Linked DNA regions of Homo sapiens. The main gene of each other region encodes a partner of the protein of the gene in region 4 in a complex. Each region holds a gene or a part of one and is shown on either strand. Other genes may lie near its edges.

Region 1 (2,191 bases), on a different chromosome or scaffold from region 4:
TCAGACCGAGGTGGGAACTAGAAAGAAATAGTTCTGGGAGCAGTTTCCAGTCTGAAATGTAGACTGCCCTTTGTCAGGCCCTCCTGGCCCAGTGGTCCACATGAGAAACTGATTATCTCACTGTGTAAAGTGCAAAGGAGACTTGCTTCCCCAGGAATAAATGCAGCATTAAGTGATTAGACTGTTAGGCTTTGTGTGTGTGTGTGTGTGTGTGTGTGTGTGTGTTTTGCTACTCTGTAAAAGGCTGTGTGTGTGTGTGTGTGTGTGTGTGGCTACTCTGTAACCCAATCCCTAGTTCCTTGGTTTTCCTGTCCAGCTATTTTTTCTTTTCTTTAAAGTCTTATTAAAACAATATGTGCTTTTTGTAAGTAATTTGAAATGCAGAAGAGTAATGTGAAGAAGGAAAAAAAAGTCACCTGTAATTCCATATCCAGAGAGAACCTTTTACATAGACTTTTTTGCATATCCTGGTGTTCTGTTTTTTTCTTGGAGACTGTGGTGTTTATTATGTTTTCTTCTGCTCTTTTTGCTTAACATTATGTAAAACATGTTTCCCCATGTTAGTGTAAAGCTTTTCTTTTCTTTTCTTTTCTTTTTTTTTTTTGAGATGGAGTCTTGCTGTGTTGCCCAGCCTGGAGTGCAGTGGCGCGATCTCGGCTCACTGCAAGCTCCGCCTCCCGGGTTCACGCCATTCTCCTGCCTCAGCCTCCTGAGTAGCTGGGACTACAGGCACCCACCACCATGCCTGGCTAATTTTTTTTTTGTATTTTTAGTAGAGACAGGGTTTCACCATGTTAGCCAGGATGGTCTTGATCTCCTGACCTCGTGATCCGCCCGCCTCAGCCTCCCAAAGTGCTGGGATTACAGGTGTGAGCCACCGTGCCCGGCCGGTGTAAAGCTTTTCTTAAACGTTTCAATAGTTGCATAACATTTCAGTAAGTGGATATGTCTTGATTCATTTGAACATTCCCCTGATTTGGGGCATCTAGGTGTTTTCCACCCTCGATAATATAAAGAACAGTGCCTTGCACATATCTGTGCATTGATGTTTGTCAGAATTTTGGTTCCTAGTGACAAAACAGTAGGAAGATGCCTCTTCTGTTTCTTAGGCTGAGATGGAACAGTGCCTTGCACATACCTGTGCATTGATCTTTGTCAGAATTTTGGTTCCTAGTGACACAACAGTAGGAAGATGCCTCTTCTCTTTCTTAGGCTGAGATTGAGAGCTGCTGAGTGGCAGTGCTCCAGAATCACGGGATGGGGCCTTCTGTTTCAGCTCTGCGTACGTGTCCTATGGGGGCCTGCTCATGAGGCTGCAGGGGGATGCCAACAACCTGCATGGATTCGAGGTGGACTCCAGAGTTTATCTCCTGATGAAGAAGCTAGCCTTCTGAACCTCGCCTGAAGCCAGCCTCTCTGCCAAGTCACTCAGGTCATGGGCATTGTTCAAGCCTGAGTGGCAGCCGCTCTTGCTCACCTGTTGAGGAAGGGCTGGCTCACTGTCCACCGTGGCGGCATCTTTAACTGGCCTCCACTCAATGGGAAACTGACTCGCCTGTGAAAGACACAGTGGGAGAGCTGAAAATGAATCAGAAGCTTTATGTATATGATTTTTAAATTAAACTTTACTTTTTCAGACTGCCCCTCCCCTTTTTGTAAAAAGTCCATTTACTGTAAAATCGTTTTTTCCAGTTTGTCTGTGGTGTATTGTTTCTGGCCCACAGCCAGCTGATCACTTGTCAATGTAGGATCTATTCCAGCCTTTTGGTATCTGGGTTCAGGGTTATCTCAGTCTCCTGGCTGACTGTTCTCAACATTTATCCTCCAGTGTGGTTTTCAGTCTGGGAGAGAGTTGTGCTTTTGGCTCCTGAGGGTACCCCAGGCCCAGAAGATACCACCCATTTGGCGCAGAATTTTGAATTGGCAAGGAGCCCTGCTCATGTCCTTCCAACACTTTCAGTCTCTTAGGAAGTCAGTTCATGCTGACTTGAATGAGTCACTTGCATAGTCTAGAAATGTTCATTATTTTTATGGAAGCTTTGGGTAGAGGCTTTTAGCTACAGGCATGGGAGATGACTATGAAGAGAGTAGGACGAGAGGACTTGGTGGTTCTGGAAGCAGCTGGAGGAGCTGGCTCTCTGCTCTACATTCCAGTGGTGACCTGGGAGGGAGGGTAAGTGGAAGTGGACAG
Region 2 (3,500 bases), on a different chromosome or scaffold from region 4:
GTTGGAGGTGGGGCCTGGTGGGCGGTGACTGGTATGAAGGTGGATTTCCCTCTTGGTGCTGTTCTCCTGATAATGAGTTCTCATGAGATCTGGTCATTTAAAAGTGTGTGGCACCTTCCCCACTCTCTCTTGCTCCTGCTCCGGCCATGTAAGATGAGCCTGTTTCCCCTTCACCTTCTGCCATGATTATAAGTTTCCTGAGACCTCCCCATAAGCTGAGTAGACACCAGCATCATGCTTCCTGGAGAGCCTGCAGAACTGTGAGCCAAATCAATCTCTTTTCTTTATAAATTATCCAGTCTCAAGCATTCCTTTATAGCATTGCAAGAATAGACTAATACATAGCCAAAACAATCTTGAAAAAGAACAAAATTGGTGATCTCACTCTTACTGATTTCAAAATATATTACAGAGCTACATTAATCAGGCCAGGTGCAGTGGCTCACACCTGGAATGCCACCACTTTGGGAAGCCGAGGGTGGGCAGATCACTTGAGGTCAGGAGTTCGAGACCAGACTGGCCAACATGGTAAAACCACATCTCTACCAAAAATAAAAAAATTAGTTGGGTGTGGTGGTGTGTGCCTATAATCCCAGCTAATCAGGAGGCTGAGGCAGGACTACTGCTTGAACCTGGGAGGCAGAGGTTGCAGTGACCCAAGATTGCATCACTGCACTCCAGCATGGGTGACAGTGTGACTCTGTCTCAAAAAAAAAAAAAAAAAAAGGCTACATTAATCAAAACATTGTAGTGCTGGCATGAAGAAAGACATACAGGCAGAATAGAGGGCCCAGAAATAAACCTTCACATATATGGTCAAATGATCTTCCACATGAGTACCAAGACTAAGACTATTCAATGGGCAAAGGACGGTCTCTTCATCAAGACACTGAGAAAACTGGATATCCACATGAAAAGGAATAAAGTTGGACTCTTACACCATATACAAAAATTAACTCTAAATACCTAAGACCCAAAACTATAAAACTCCTAGAAGAAAACATAGGACAAAAGCTTCATGACATTAGATTTGGCAGTGATTTAAACATGATACTAAAGGCACAGGCAACAAAATCAAAAATAGACAAGAGTGCAGCAAACTCAGAAACTGGCAAATTAAAGAGCACAATCAACAGAGTAAAATGGCAACCTACAGAATGGGAGAAAATATTTGCAAATCATGTATCTGTTAAGGAATTAATATCCAGAATATATTTTTTAAAACTCCCACAATTCAACAACAAAAACACAATGGAATATTATTCAGCTTTAAAAAGGAAGAAAATCCTGTTGCAAGTACAACATGGATGAACCTTGAGAATATTATGCTAAGTGAAATAAGCCAGTCTTGGAAAAAGATTCCAAGATTCCAAGCAAACGGGCTAAGGCTAGAAGAACAGAAGAGACATATCATATGCTACCTGCTGTAGGGCAGACAAGGTTTGGAGTAACTGCCCACTTAACCACAAAACAAAACAAATAGAAACACTCTTGGGAGGAATGTAACAGAATCCTGAGTCTTTACACATATTAATATAATCCACAAGGTCTAAGACCCAACAGAAATGTATTAGATATATGAAGAAACAGGAAAATATGACCCATAAAAGAGACAGTCAATGCAGACCAGCTCTGAGATGACTCGGCTGTTAGAATAAGAAGAATTTTAAAGCAGCTATAAGAAATCATACTTAAGGGTGTAACAAAAGATACTTGTCACGAATGGAAAAAAAAGAAAACAAAATTCAGCAAAGAAACAGAAACCAGAAGAAAAATTTACAAAGAAAGACTAGAACTGAAAAATACAATTAAAAAATTCACCAACTGGGCTTAACAAGTTGGAAGTGAAGAAGAAAAGTGAGTGAACTTGACAATGGATTAATAGAACAGAAAAAAAATTGAAATAAATAAACAGAGCCTCAGGGACTTGTAGTACAATACCAGAAGATCTGACATGTATAATTCCATTACCAAGAAGAAGAGACAAAGGGGCAAGTTTTCTTCTACAGGCAGCAAAATGAATGAACCTGCTTAACAAGTTAACATTAATAATGAGCAACTGTGACAAATGGAAACAAGCAGCTTTCCCCAGTGAGTTTCAAATTTAAACTGGAAATGTCATCTGTATCAGTAGGACTTTCATAGATAGCCCCTTTAGGACTTCAAAACAGCCAGGTTATTAACCAATGCTTTCATGTTTTAATGCCTCTAGTTCCTCAGGTAAGGAACATCTACTAGTATTATAGAAGACACTCTTATTTACAAACAGAGCTTACAAGAGAAACTCTATTGCCTTTGAGGAAAATTTTCCAGAAATAGCCTGAACAATCAAACAATCATATAGTAACAGCAACAAGAACCCGTCAAAGTTACACAGAGATGGCTGCTCCCTTTCCTGCTAGGTGGCACAAGACAAATTTCAAACCTTCAAGTGGCTCACTGTAACCCATGTGTATATAATAGAAGCTTTAAAAACAATTGTAAAATGTTTGATATTTTTAAAACCAAGAAGTCATTATTCATTCAAATTATATTAAGACATAGAAAGAAAAGAGAGATTACCTTGACAGCTTTCTGGGAATTGGGCAGTGCTTCTTCTATGTCTTCTAAAAGAATTCCTCCTAATCCTCGCTGGTCATGCTGATCTAAGAGCCTAAGTAGGGCCTTCTTATCTCTCACGTTGTACTTGGGCTTGAAAGCATACTTCCCATCTATTACTTCAATTTTGGGATTGTTGACTAAAGCCTGTAACAGTGATACAATTGGAATATATTAACAAATGGAACATAAATATATATATATATTTTTGAAACGTAATCTTGCTCTGTCGCCCAGGCTGGAGTGCAGTGGCGTGATCTCAGCTCACTGCAACCTCCGCCTCCTGGGTTCAAGCGATTCTCCTGCCTCAGCCTCCCTCTCCTGCCTCCCTCCCTCTCAGCACCTGGGACTGCAGGTGCGCACCACCACACCCAGCGAATTTTTGTATTTTTAGTAGAGACGGGGTTTCACCACATTGGCCAGGCTGGTCTTGAACTTCTGACCTCAGGTGATCCACCCACCTCAGCCTCCCAAAGTACTGGGATTATAGGCGTGAGCCACTGTGCCCAGCCCATATACACATTCTTAATTCTACTAATTATTTTAAAATACAACACTAGCCAATACAGTGGCAAATTAAAAGTACCTTATGAATACAAACTGGCAGGCCTAAAATCCTGGACATCCAGAATTCCAGAACAGTAGATCAGCACGGTGCTCACTTTTTATAAAAGAAACTGTGTTTTATTTACATAAATTCTTTGAAGAGAAATAAACCATTTTATCACAACTACTTTGAAAAAAGCTGAACCCATATTCTTCTAGTAGTCAAAATGTGTAGGAATCAATAAAACACCTACAAATATTAATAGACAAAGTGAACTGAGTAGTGCCCACTCCATCTGCAAAGTACAGCTTATCACATACTGGCATTATAAAGTAAGGAACATAACCCTTACTAG
Region 3 (3,500 bases), on a different chromosome or scaffold from region 4:
AAAAAAGCTTTAACAGTTGGCTGTAATTTGGCTTTTATTATCCTTTATTAAAATACAAATGTCAATGCTTTTCCTGCCTTTTTAATACCATGTCAGTGTAACATAGGTATTTATTTTGCTCATCCCTGTGATCTGTGCATTTTTGCTGCGTGGATGTGATTGTTTGGTTTCAGTTAGAAACGTCATAGATTTGCTGTTTGAATATGCCAAGGTGGGGACTTAGACATTATGTACGTCTCACAAATCCTACCTGCATACCAGTCAGCTCTATTGAGGAAGACAATGTAAAACTAATGTAAACTACAGTTTGCATTTCCCTGAAAACAGAATATTGTTTTTAAGAGGGTTAGAAACAACCAGTGGGAAAGGCACATGCTGCTTTGTTTAGTTTTTCCTTGTTCAAACTTTGTTGGTCACATTTTCCCATCTGTATTCTTTTTTATTAAGAAAACAGCTTAGGGAGGCTGAGGTGGGAGGATTGCTTGAGCCCAGGAGTCCGAGGTTGCTACAAAAACACCATTGCACTCTGGCCTGGACAACAGAGAGACCCTGCCTCAAAAAAAAAAAAAAAAAAAAAAAAAATTCTACTTGTACCTTATTCCCTATGAGAATACTTATCAAACTTATCTAAAAAAGAAAAATAGGAACAGCCATATGCAAAGTCAGCCCAACAGGAAAGGACATATTAGATTAAAATACATTGCGGCCTGGGCTTAGTGGCTCACACCTGTAATCCCAGCACTTTGGGAGGCTGAGGCAGGCAGATCGCTTGAGTCCAGGAGTCGAAACCCTGTCTCTACAAAAAAAAAAATACAAAAATCTGCCTGTTGTCCCAGCCACTGGGGAGGCTGAGGTAGGAGGTCAAGGCTGCAGTGAACCTTGATCATTGCTACTGCCACTCCAGCCTAGGTGACAGAGTGAGACCCTGTCTCCAAAAAAAAAAGTGTATATGTATGTGTGTATATATAGCAAGAGAGAGTTCTGTGATCAATTGAAGGCAAAAACAGTAACACTGAGAGGGGCTTTGCTTCCCTTCCTGAAGATCATGTCATTGGGGTGGGTTCCTGTAAAGGGAATTTTCCAAGAGAAAAGAGAATTTTCATGACCTGTAGACTCTTACAAATCCATTTTACCTGCTTCCTTATGGTATGTTTATTCAAAGCACCTGTGTACCATATTTATTCACTTACACAGCATTACTGAATCTGGAAATTTTCAGTTAGGTATATTTTACATAATTCCCACCCATATAACTCAGTCCATACAGTTCACAGTTTTCATTCCCTCATAGCAATGCAAAAAATTTTGATGAGTTACTACTACTAAAACTAGTTAAGTAAAAGATGATTCTTAAGAATTTCCAGGCTGGGCACGGTGGCTCACGCCTGTAATCCCAGCACTTTGGGAGGCTGAGGCAGGCAGCTCACGAGGTCAGGAGATCGAGACCATCCTGCTCGGTGAAACCCCATCTCTATTAAAAATACAAAAAATTAGCCGGGCCTGGTGGCGGGTGCCTGTAGTCCCATCTACTCAGGAGGCTGAGGCAGGAGAATGGCGTGAACCCGGGAGGCGGAGCTTGCAGTAAGCTGAGATTGTGCCACTGCACTCCAGCCTGGGCGACAGAGGGAGACTCCATCTCAAAAAAAAAAAAAAAAAAAAATGAATTTCCAGCTATACCAAAATGTTACTAATGTATCTTATATTTCAGGCATGTCTAAATCAACTTTTAGTATGCCTCAGGCATTTGTCACCAACCTTTTATATTAACATGAAACTTAGAAAATTTTTGATAGAATCCCAGAGTTCAAAAGGTATTAGGATTTTTGCCACTGAAGTAAAAAAGAGAAAAAAAGATATTTATGAGAAAACTATTGAACAGTGACTGTGTTGTACCCGAGCAAGTTAGAGGAACGCCACACTTTGAGACGAATTTAAAAGTCCTTTATTTAGCTGGCAGCCAAGAGGTGGCTCACACTTGGAATTCTCTCAGCTCCGAGGAAGGGGCTTGATTTTCCTTTATACTTTGGTTTAGGAAGGGGACGGGAGCTCAGTTGCAACAATTCTACAGAAGTAAAAACATGCAAAAAATTAAAAAGACAAATGGTTACAGAGAAACAAACAGTTCCAGGTGCAGGGGCTCTAAATCTATCATAAGATGTCAGGTGTGGGGGCTCTGCCAGACACAAACTCAAGGCTTTATGGTGTATCTCTTGAGCGAAATCCTGGGAACTTCGTACATTGCTTGCTTCAGTACCTTATGAGTTAATTGGACTCTTTGATATGTTGAGAGTCAGCTTACACAAGTTAACTCCTTGAGGAAAGGGGGTGGGTAAGGAGTCCTTGATGTCCTGTAAATGAAGGAACCAAATGGAGTTCCTCCGGCTTTCTCAGCTAAGGGAGAGCTTATTCACATGGAAACAAGGCTAGGTGATTAAGGGAGAAAGGGACAGTCTGAAAACAAGGTTAGTAAAAACAAGGTTAGGTATTAGAACTGCAAAGAGTATTAAGTGAAATAAGTGAAGGAAAATATGAGCTCTTATTTTTAAAAAGTTGTGTTGGGGCAAATGTTAAATATCTTTCTTTCTCTGGACATTATTAAGAAAGATAGAGTGATGTGAATGATAGGAAGCCCACCTGTAACCACTTAGCTGACATGTCCAACTATGGGTGAACAGGAAATAAGCGACATTCACCTAGGCTGTTTATTGGAATCTGACTAGCATTATTTGATTTGGCATACTTTACATGTCCAGAACAAGGCTGTTGGTGCTTGGCACCAAGAAATTTATGACTTTTTTTTTTTTTTTAAATAAAGTCCTAAAGGTAGCATTAAAATGACTTAACTGGAGGCAGGAGGATCACTGAAGCCCAGGAGTTTGAAGCTGCAGTAAGCTAAGAAGGTGCCACTGCACTGCAGCCTGGATGACAGAGTGAAACTTTGTCTCTTAATAGAACTATGGACTGAAGTTGTGATATTGAGTGTTATATTTCTCAATAAAGGTTTTTTCTTTTAATACTGTATTAGGTCAAATTCAAGGTCTTAATTCCTTGAATTCCAATTTCCTTGTGAAATTTCATGTGATTAATTTAAAATTCCAGGGATCCTATCTAACATCACAGTTGATGGATATAACAATGTATTTTGAGAAATCAGTTTTGGTGAACAGTAACAGCATTACTGATAATAGGCAACAAACACTACTGCATTTTATTTCTGATAGGCATTATAGGTGGTAATCCAAATGATTAATGATTTTATTGCTCTTTACATTTTCTAGAACAGGTGATTTGACATAATTGTACTTTTTTCTGAGAAGTTGGTAGTGTACTTACTACTCTATTTTGCAGTTATACAATAAATCTTACTTAGCTGACAACTAGGAGTAAAAGCTCTGACAAAAAGCCTCTGCTGTAACTAAAATACTGAGATCATTCTATCTTAACAAACTTAACAGATGGGGAAGGGGTATATTTTAAAGATGGAGAAATGATGCAGTTTG
Region 4 (3,905 bases):
AGCAATTCTCCTGCCTCAGTCTCCCGAGTAGCTGGCACTAGAGGCATGCACCACCATGCCCAGCTAATTTTTGTGTTTTCAGTAGAGACACGGTCTCACTGTGTTGGCCAGGCTGGTCTCAAACTCCTGATCTCAGGTGATCTGCCTGCCTCAGCCTCTCAAAGTGCTGGGATGACAGGCGTGAGCCACTGTGCCCGGCCCCACTTGCCTCTCATTCTAGGGCCACTGTGAGCGATGGTAGACTTTGCCTTCACTGGCACTGCCTGAGCAGGCACCTCTGTGACCTAATGCCCAGGCGCCCGTACTCACCCTCCTCACCACTGGCATCACTGGCATCGGACGACATCTCCAGGTCGTCCTCCAGGTCGTGGATGCGCAGCTCGCTCGCCTTCCTGCGGCCACGTTTCTCCTTCTCCTCCTCATCCTCGTCCTGGTCCTGATCCTTGAGCCGCCGCTGCTGCATGATGCTGAAGTGGTTCAGCACCTTGTTCCTCCTGCGGGCCAGGCACAGGGGGGCTCATGCCGGGCCTGGCACCACCCTGCATCTGTGCTTGCAGGGGGCGAGCCCCAGGGCACCACCCACATAGCCTTCAAGGTGATGTGGCCCCCGGGGACTTGGGCTGTGGCACAGGACTCCCTGAAACCACACGGATAGAGCCAGCCCTTCCTGCCTTCCCGTTCTGCCCCGAGTCCCTCAAAGAGCAGGTCCCCATGTGCTGCTGGAGTCTCAGCACCTCCCTCGGACTCAGAGTCTGGCCCCAATCCAGTCACACTGGTTTCTTGCTATTTTTTATTATTATTTTTTTATTTTCTGAGACAGAGTATCGCTCTGTCGCCCAGACTGGAGTGCAGTGATGTGATCTCGGCTCACTGCAACCTCCGCCTCCTGGCTTCAAGCAATTCTCCTGACTCAGCCTCCCAGATAGCCGGGGTTCCAGGCGCCTGCCACCACGCCCAGCTAATTTTTTTTTTTTTTTGTATTTTTAGTAGAGACAGGGTTTCACCATGTTGGACAGGCTGGTCTCGAACTCCTGACCTCATGATCCACCTTGGCCTCCCAAAGTGCTGGGATTACAGGTGTGAGCCACCGTGCCCAGCCAGATCTTTTGTTATCTTAATTTATAGATGTATTTTTCTTTAATGACAAAACATACTGTTTCCATTGGAACAATGTAACGTTGTCTCATTGCTCAGGGAAGCTTTAAAAAACAGGACTGCAGGCCAGGTTGGGCGCGGTGGCTCACGCCTGTAATCCCAGCACTTTGGGAGGCCGAGGCAAGTGGATCACCTGAGGTCAGGAGTTTGAGAACAGCCTGAACAACATGGTGAAACCTCATCCCTACAAAAAATTAAAAAATTAGCCGGGCGTGGTGGCATGTGCCTGTAGTCCTGACTACTCAGGAGGCTGAGGGAGGAGAATCAATTGAACCCAGGAGGCAGAGGTTGCAGTAAGCTAAGATTGCCCCACAGCACTCCAGCCTCGGTGACAGAGTAAGAATCTGTCTCCAAAAAAAAAAAAAGGACTGCATTTAATAGGAATGCATCTAACATGGGCAAGGCCCAGGCTGGTGTGAAAGATAATGAAACTGCTGCTTAACACTGTGAGTGGCTTTACCACACTGAGCCATGCACCAAAAAACAGTGACAGTTTGGTGCAGTGGCTCAAGCCTGTCATCCCAGCACTTTGGGAGGGGAGGCCGAGGCTGGAGGCTCGCTTGAACCCAGGAGTTTGAGACCAGCCTGAGCAACATGGCGAGACACCATCACCATTTGTTCTTTTCTTTTCTTTTCTTTTCTTTTGAGTTGGAGTCTTGATCTGTCACCGAGACTGGAGTGCAATGGTGTGATCTCGGCTCACCACAACCTCCACCTCCCGGGTTCAAGCAATTCTCCTGCCTCAGCCTCCCGAGTAGCTGGGATTACAGGTGCCCGCCACCATGCCTGGCTAATTTCTGTATTTTTAGTAGAGATGGCATTTCACCAAATTGGCCAGGCTGGTCTCTTGGCCAGGCTGGTCTCGAACTCTTGACCTTGCGATCCGCTCTCCACGTGCCCAGCCTGAACAGTTCTTAGCTAAGTAGATTTAACATCTGATCAAGAGATGGCATTCTGGCCGGGCACCATGGCTCACACCTGTAATCCCAGCATATTGGGATGCCAAAGCGGGCAGATCACTTGAGGCCAGGAGTTGGAGACCAGCCTGGGCAATATGCTGAAACCCCTTCTCTACTAAAAGTACAAAAATTAGCCAGGTGGGGAGGTGCACGTGTGTAGTCCCAGCTACTCGCAAGGCTGAGGCAGAATCGCTTAAACCCAGGAGGTCGAGGTTGCAATGAGCCAGTGAGCTGAGATGGTACCACTGCACTCCAGCCTGGGTGACAGTGAGACTGTCTCAAAAAAAAAAAAAAAAAAAAAAAAAAAGAGATGGCATTTCTCCTTTGGTTAACATCCAGGTTTTACACAATTCTATAAAATGCCAAATTCTTCTCCCTAAAACTTACAAAGCAGATTCTAAGGAAAATACAGCAAAAGCGAACCTGCCCCCCCAGCAATGATTGATCGACTGATTTTACAGTGGAGCCCCAGGAACTCAACCAAAGTGGAGCAGGCAGGCAGACCTGGGGGCTGTTGTTCCAGGGGAGCAGGGGTACAGAAACTGCCCCACAGGCTCGGAGGCTCATGACCTGGTGGGGAGGACGCTCTGACTTCGTGCCATTTACCGGGGTTGCTTTTGGAGCTGAGCCAACCTATGACTCTTCAGAAATTTTAAAACCAAAGAAAATGATTAAAAACTAAAGCAGGGGCTGGGCATGGTGGCTCACGCCTGTAATCCCAGCACTTTGGGAGGCCGAGGCAGGCAGATCACGAGGTCAGGAGATCGAGACCACGGTGAAACCCCATCTGTACCAAAAAAATAGAAAAAAATTAGCCGGGCATGGTGGCAGGCGCCTGTAGTCCCAGCTACCCAGGAGGCTGAGGCCAGAGAATGGCATGAACCCGGGAGGCGGAGCTTGCAGTGAGCTGAGATCGCGCCACTGCACTCCAGCCTGGGTGACAGAGCGAGATTCGGTCTCAAAAAAACAAAACAACAAAACTAAAACAGGCCGGGCGTGGTGGCTCACGGATGTAATCCCCACACTTAGGGAGGCTGAGGGGGGCAGATCACCTGAGGTTAGGAGTTTGAGACCACCTGGCCAACATGGTGAAACCCTGTCTCTACAAAAAATACAAAGTTAGCCAGGCGTGGTGGTGCATGCCTGTAATCCCATTTCTCTACTTGGGAGGCTGAGGCAGGAGAATTGCTTGAACCTAGGAGTCGGAGGTTGCAGTGAGCTGAGATTGCGCCACTGCAGTCCAGCCTGGGCAACAAGAGCGAAACTCAGTTCAAAAAAAAACACACAAACAAACAAACAAACAAAAAAACACCAAAGAGGGAAAAAGGTGTTTTATTTGTTTTGTTTTGAGACGGAGTCTCGCTCTGTCGCCCAGGCTGGAGTGCACTGGCAACATCTAGGATCACTGCAAGCTCCGCCTCCCAGTTCACGCCATTCTCCTGCCTCAGCCTCCCGAGTACTGGGACTACAGGCGCCCGCCACCATGCCCGGCTAATTTTTTGTATTTTTAGTAGAGACGGGGTTTCACCGTGTTAGCCAGGATGGTCTCGATCTCCTGACCTCGTGATCCGCCTGCCTTGGCCTCCCAATGTGCTGGGATTACAGGCGTGAGCCACCACACCCAGCCGAAAAAGGTGTTTTTTTAACCTTTGGGAGCCATCGACTCTTTGAGCATCTGCTCATCTGTGACCTGTGCAAATGCCATTTGTAGATGCGTCCAGAGTGCCCTCCCCACCATCTGCAAGCACCCTAGGGTGGTGGTGGCCCTACGGTCTCATCCAAAGCCATACA

The links. The genes of interacting proteins can lie anywhere in the genome.
Region 1: GTF2F1 (region 4) and POLR2H share a complex: the UniProt entries of both Homo sapiens proteins name them as parts of the TBP-based Pol II pre-initiation complex.
Region 2: GTF2F1 (region 4) and GTF2E2 share a complex: the UniProt entries of both Homo sapiens proteins name them as parts of the TBP-based Pol II pre-initiation complex.
Region 3: GTF2F1 (region 4) and GTF2H5 share a complex: the UniProt entries of both Homo sapiens proteins name them as parts of the TBP-based Pol II pre-initiation complex.

What each region holds. Positions count from the first base shown.
Region 1 is NC_000003.12:184,366,901-184,369,091, forward strand, and holds the end of POLR2H (DNA-directed RNA polymerases I, II, and III subunit RPABC3), read left to right. Parts: intron 1-1,212; coding exon of another isoform or gene 1,213-1,276; coding exon 1,277-1,394; coding exon of another isoform or gene 1,395-1,405; 3' UTR 1,406-1,691; downstream 1,692-2,191. UniProt on the Homo sapiens protein: DNA-dependent RNA polymerase catalyzes the transcription of DNA into RNA using the four ribonucleoside triphosphates as substrates.
Region 2 is NC_000008.11:30,609,737-30,613,236, forward strand, and holds part of GTF2E2 (transcription initiation factor IIE subunit beta), read right to left. Parts: intron 2,746-3,500; coding exon 2,563-2,745; intron 1-2,562. UniProt on the Homo sapiens protein: Recruits TFIIH to the initiation complex and stimulates the RNA polymerase II C-terminal domain kinase and DNA-dependent ATPase activities of TFIIH. Both TFIIH and TFIIE are required for promoter clearance by RNA polymerase.
Region 3 is NC_000006.12:158,192,350-158,195,849, forward strand, and holds part of GTF2H5 (general transcription factor IIH subunit 5), read left to right. Parts: 3' UTR 1-3,500. UniProt on the Homo sapiens protein: Component of the general transcription and DNA repair factor IIH (TFIIH) core complex, which is involved in general and transcription-coupled nucleotide excision repair (NER) of damaged DNA and, when complexed to CAK, in RNA transcription by RNA polymerase II.
Region 4 is NC_000019.10:6,383,002-6,386,906, forward strand, and holds part of GTF2F1 (general transcription factor IIF subunit 1), read right to left. Parts: intron 495-3,905; coding exon 310-494; intron 1-309. UniProt on the Homo sapiens protein: TFIIF is a general transcription initiation factor that binds to RNA polymerase II and helps to recruit it to the initiation complex in collaboration with TFIIB. It promotes transcription elongation.